2 separate regions of the Homo sapiens genome follow, and region 1 is linked to region 2. Evidence: fine-mapped expression QTL. A gene starts in region 2. The other region holds a variant in brackets. All regions are shown on one strand. Distances are between the middles of the regions.

Region 1 (2,897 bases), 47 kb before region 2:
TCCTCCTCGTCCTCCTGCCTCTGCTGGTGGATCTCCTTGTGCTGCTCCTCGATCACCGCCAGCAGCTTCTCCTGCTGGTCCAGCAAGCGCTTTTGCTGCACCTGCTGTTCTTTGATCACCTGAAGCAGGACGGCGTGGTCCAGCATCTCCGCCCTGCCAGCTTCTGGGTTTGGAAAGCACACAGTCAGAGTGCCCGGGCTGCTCATGCACCGTGCTGGGCCAGGGACGGCGCGGCCCACAGCAAGGCAACGCACAGGTCACCTGCAGGGAGTGTGCCCGAACACTGGCCACTGGTGACACCCATCATGACTGTGACCGTGAAGCCCGGACAGCTCAGTGATGCACGCAGGCCTGAGGGCCCGGGAGAGGCTGCGCCCTGACTGCCCCTGGAAGCCCACCCGGGATGGCCTCTCCCGCACAGCCAGCCACTGTGCCGCATCAGTTCTCCCACTGGCTGTGCCCCAGGCGCACCCGGCAGGACCCCAGCAAGCCTGCTCGTTGCCCATGGAAGTGAGTGTCCAGAGCAACAGTCAAAAGGAATGTGCCAGAATGTCAGAGATGGTTATCTGGGCTGGGTGGGGTTTTGTTTTTGTTTTTTCCACTTTACACATTCAGTTGTTCTAGGACAAGCACGTAAGAAAATAAGCCTGGGCACGGCGGCTCACGCCTGTAATCCCAGCAATTTGGGAGGCGGAGGCAGGCAGATCGCTTGAGCCCAGGAGTTAGAGACCAGCCTGGGAAACATAGCAAGACCCCCATCTCCACAAAAACAAAAAAAACAAAAAAATAAAAATGATCAGGGTATGGTGAGAGGCGTCTGTACTCCCAGCTACTCGGGGGGCAGAGGCCAGAGGATCATTTGAGCCCAGGAGGTCGAGGCTGCAGTGAGCCGTGATCACACCACTGCACTCCAGCCTGGGCAACAGAGCAAGACCCTGTCTCAAAAAAGAAAAAAAGAAAAGAAAAACTGTAAGCTATGTTTTGAAAAGAATATTGGTACTTCTAGAAAGTTTCCTCCGAGATGAGAATTTTAAAAACAAACAAAAGCTGTCTTTTTTTTTTTTTTTTTTTTTTTTGAGACGGGAGTCTCACTCTGTCACCCAGGCTGGAGTGCAGTGGCGCGATCTCAGCTCACTGCAAGCTCCGCCTCCCGGGTTCACGCCATTCTTCTGCCTCAGCCTCCCGAGTAGCTGGGACTACAGACGCCCGCCACCGCGCCCGGCTAATGTTTTGTATTTTTAGTAGAGATGGGGTTTCACCGTGTTAGCCAGGATGGTCTTGATCTCCTGACCTCGTGATTCGCACACCTCAGCCTCGCAAAGTGCTGGGATTACAGGCATGAGCCACCGCACCCGGCCAAAAGCTGTCTTCTAAGGGGAGCATGGGAGCTGGAGCGTCAGTGAGGCCCCCGCCAGCCATCCTAACCACCGCTCCTGAACACCATCCACTGTGGAAATTCTGGGCAGGTCCTGCGTGATGGGGAGCCCCAGTGCACCCCGTGTTAAGAGCTGGTGCCTGCAGCAAGGGCCAGAGGACAGGCCTGCCCGGGTTACGGCTGGCACACACTTGGTGCAGGAGCACCCGGTCTGACTCGCTTCAACACTGGCCAGTTATTTGCCGCAAGCGGCTGTG[A/G]CTTATGTCATTTTTACAAGATGTTTTCAAATTATTATAGGAAGCTTTGAAAAATGATGGGTTAGGGCTGTGAGGCATAAAAGTTCAATCCAGGAGCGAGAAGGATGTTTTGTGAGTGGTGAGAGCAAATATCTCAGGGACGGCCCTGCATGCCAGGCATAGACTGACGTGCCGGCCCAGCCTCCCCAGTGGTGACACCATGACCAGCCAGAGAAGTGCAGGGTCAGCATTCTCCCAGGAACGCAGCCCTGGGCCTCGCCCAGACCCCTGGATGTGGGGGACAGGGCTGGCTCCAAGGAGATCAGGGCCATGGGGCCGGCCCTCAAGCAGCAGCCCCTGCTCCCTGCTAGCACCCCGGGCCAGACGCCTGCCTGCAGGGAAAGGCCATGACGGGCAGAGCAGGTCTCCCGCACACCTCCTTTCACAGGAGGAAGTGCAGGTGGCAGACCAGCCACCTCGGCCGTGGGCCACGTGCTCGCCCTGGGTGCTGCGGGGCTCAACCACGGAATGTCAATGGTACAAGGACGAGATCCCATGTGCTGGTGACACCTCCCCATACTCCAGGGCAGGGTTCCGAAAGAGCAGGCACCATGGCCTCACTTGCTCCTCAAAGGACTAGCCCTGGGCCTGGTGCTGGGAAGAGGAGGAAAGAGGAGACAGAAGGGAGGAGGGGGAGGGGGAGGAGGGAGGGAGAAAGAGGAGGAGGGAGAAGGAAGGTGGGGGAAGAGGAGGAGGGAGGAGGAGGAAGGAGGGAAGAGGAGGAAGGAGGGAAGAGGAGGAAGGAGGGAAGAGGAGGAAGGAGGGAAGAGGAGGAAGGAGGGAAGAGGAGGAGGAGGGAGGGAAGAGGAGCAGGAGGGAGGGAAGAGGAGGATGAAGGAGGGAGGGAAGAGGAGGGAGAAGGAGGGAGGGAGAAGGAGGGAGGGAAGAGGAGGGAGGAGGGAAGAGGAGGGAGGAGAGAAGAGGAGGGAGAAGGAGGGAGGAGGGAAGAGGAGGGAGGAAGGAAGAGGAAGAGGAGGAAAAAAGAGGGGGAGGGGGGAAGGAGCCATGCCACGTCCAGCCAGAAGCCACGTGGGACACATGTGAAGCACCGTGGAGGAGACAGGCTGTTCCTACAGCCAGAGCCCACCAAGACCACGGGGACTGGGCTGCAGAAGGCACGAAGCCACCCACCTGTTGAGACCCATGCAGATCTGTCAAGGTGGCCCATGAGGCAGCAGTGCAGGCAGCGTCCCCCCTTGGCTGGTGCCCTAAGCAGCCTGCACTCA
Region 2 (2,897 bases):
CATGTTGTTTTCATTTTTCTACCTACTTGGTAACGTTTCAGTCAGCCTTTCTTTTCCAAAGCACTAAATGCTTGTTTATTGTAGATTAAACAGATGACACTTAGAAATGGCCATTTTCTTTCATGTGTTATTCAATGCTGGAATGACGCTAAACTTTTTGTATTTGAGATTTTTTCCAACTGTGGTAACGTCTGCACACATTAGATCAAATGTGCAGTTTTTTGTTTTTGTTTTTGAGACGGAGTCTCCCTCTGTCGCCCAGGCTGGAGTGCAATGGCGTGATCTCGGCTCACTGCAACCTTCGGCTCATTGAAACCTTCGCCTCCCAGGTTCAAGCTATTCTCCTGTCTCAGCCTCCCAAGTATCTGGGATTACAGGCATGTGCCACCACCCCCGGCTAATTTTTGTATTTTCAGTAGAGATGGGGTTTCAGCATGTTGGTCAGGCAGTTCTCGAACTCCTGACCTCAGGTGATCCACTCGCCTCGGCCTCCCAAAGTGCTGGGATTACAGGTGTGAGCCACCACCCCCTGCCAAATGTGCGGTTTTTGTGAAACGCAGATCTTAGGTGTATAACCTGGTGGATGTTTTTAATCACCTTGCAACCAAGGTCCCTATCTAGTGTCGAAGCCTGGGAGTGGTGAGTTGTGTGCTTCTGAAGACAGGTGCAGTTGGGTCAGAGTTTTTAAAAACACGATAAAATGTAAAAATACGGAGTCCCACCGTTCCCTTCCGATTCTGGAGGATCATTTTGCTTTGTTACACTTTGCTTCGGTATCGAGTTTTTGAGTGTGGGGAACTTTCCGGCCCGGGCTGACAAGGGCTGCCAGGGCCAACGCCGTGCGCTTCTCATCCACGGATTCTCTACGGGAACTGCGCCGGGACCCAGAGGGTCGCCCCGCCCGCGGCCGCCTGCACCCGCCCAGCGAAGCCCTGCCCCGGCGGGAACTTTAACCAGGACGACCCAGCCAGACGCCCCCTCTGCGGGGGAGGCGAGGGCGGTGATCTCCGGGCCCACCGGACTCACCTGTTTGAAGCAGAAGGGCATGGTGAGGACACTGACCCCTACGATGCTGTTCACGATGTTCGTGATCAGCCCCCAGTTGGAGGCGGCGGCCGCGGTCATAGTGAGAGGTCTAGGGGCCCGGGGCGAGAGGCCTCGGGGGTCGCCGGGCTGCGGCCGGCTTTGGAAGCCCAGCCCGAGGCCACGGTCACAGGTCCCAACGTCCGGGACGCCGGTGGGGAGGGGATGGGCAGCCTGAACACGGGAGCCTGAGCAGGCGCGGGCGCGGGCCCCAGAGGCTGCCTGGAGGAGGCAGCCTCGAAGGCCGGCTGCGGGGGCGAGGTCAACCTCCGGACCCCGCCAAGCCCTGCGGCCGCCTCAGGGCCATGCGTCCCTCGCTCGGCCTCGCGGGCCGCCTGTGAATCTCCGAGCCCAGACCCGGAAGAGCCGCAGAGCCAGCTAGGGACACCTCAGCCCAACTCAGCTGCCGCCGCGGCGCTCACACTTCCGCCTTCCACGGGCTCCGTTGCCCGGAAGTGACGGCCAGGGGGTAGGGTTTGGTGGGACGCGAGCCAATGAGAGGCGGGCCCGGAGGGGCGGGCGGAAACTGGGCCGGTGGGCACCTGAGGGTCTCGCAGCTGTCCGGTTCGCCAAGCTGGTCCAGCCGACCTGTGCCCGGGGCCCCAGTTCAACGAGCTGGAGGACAAGGGACTCGCCCCGCGAGGCCTCGGTTTGGATGGGCAGTCGCGGGCTGGAGAGAAGGGGAGGCGCTGTGCCTTCCGGGGAGGAGCGGGTTTAAGGGTTCCTTTTTGACCTTTATTCCCAGGACCGATTCTGGGGCGAGTGCTTGGCGCCAGGGCACGGGGGCGGGGGCCCTGACTGCCTCAGCCGAAAAATAGTCTGTTGTGAGGAATTAGCACCTAGGAGGTAGGAATGAAACGCTGGGCACAGAGAGGCTCGGCCACTCCGCTAAGGCCACACAGCTCCAAGGGGAGGCGGTGCCCTGCCGAACTGCGCCCAGATCAGTGGCAATGTTGAACTTCACCTTTTCACACGAAAAGAGCAAGGGACATTCCTGGAGGGGACAGGAGAGGTGGAGGCTTACATGAACAGGGAAACCCGGGAGGGCTTCCAGAAGGAGGTGGCTTCTAGGCTGGAGCTTGAAGGACAAATGAGAATTCCTCGGGTAGAAATGGAGACCGGGGAGAGGAGAGAACAGAGAAGGGTCCCGATAGATCTGTGGATTCCTGGCACCTAGCTGCTCACTCTGAGTCTAATGAATGAGCGCGTAGACCGAATGGCTGGGAAGCAGCAAGTGATTCCAGGCTGCTGGGGGAGGACGGCGGAGGAAAGGAGGCCGTGTCTGCAGCACCTGCAGGACCAGGTGTCTTAGAACAGAGGCCCGTTCCTCAGGCACTGGCAGTGCAGCCACCAAGTAAGGCTGTGCCCCACCTTCAGGAGAACAGGAGGAAATGCCTGGGTAAAGACTAATTAAATACGCAGGCAAAATAACAAATGCCTGCGTTCTTTTTTTTTTTTTTCTTCAGTCAGAGTCTTGCTCTGTCGCCCAGGCTGTATATGCAGTGGTGTGATCTTGGCTCACTGCAACCTCCACCTCCCAGGTTCAAGCTATTCTCATGCCTCAGCCTCCCAAGTAGCTGGAATTACAGGCTCCCGCCACCACACCCGGCTAATTTTTGTATTTTTAGTAGAGACCAGGTTTCACCATGGTGGCCAGGCTTGCCTCAAACTCCCGACCTCAGGTGATCCGCCCACCTCGGCCTCCCAAAGTGCTGGTATTACAGGCATGAGCCACCGCACCCAGCCCATTTACTTTTATATAAATGAAATGGCATACACATTCCATAACCTCCTTTTTATTATGTAATTTTCAT

Evidence for each region. PIP is the estimated chance that this variant, and not a neighbour inherited with it, causes the effect.
Region 1: its variant is the best candidate, but not a certain one, in a credible set for the expression of SLC38A10 in whole blood (TOPMed, PIP 0.70).

What each region holds. Positions count from the first base shown.
Region 1 is chr17:81,246,899-81,249,795 of GRCh38, forward strand. It overlaps SLC38A10 (solute carrier family 38 member 10), which reads right to left. Exons shown (of 16, transcript NM_001037984.3): 15 at 1-163. Among named protein-coding and RNA genes, the nearest start is that of NDUFAF8, 9.0 kb to the left of the region's middle. The variant A/G (reference allele first, on the strand shown) is at 1,633.
Region 2 is chr17:81,293,797-81,296,693 of GRCh38, forward strand. SLC38A10 (solute carrier family 38 member 10) reads right to left here and starts at 1,511. Exons shown (of 16, transcript NM_001037984.3): 1 at 1,027-1,511. The coding sequence starts at 1,125. RefSeq lists silencers at 987-1,056, 1,157-1,426 and an enhancer at 2,087-2,176.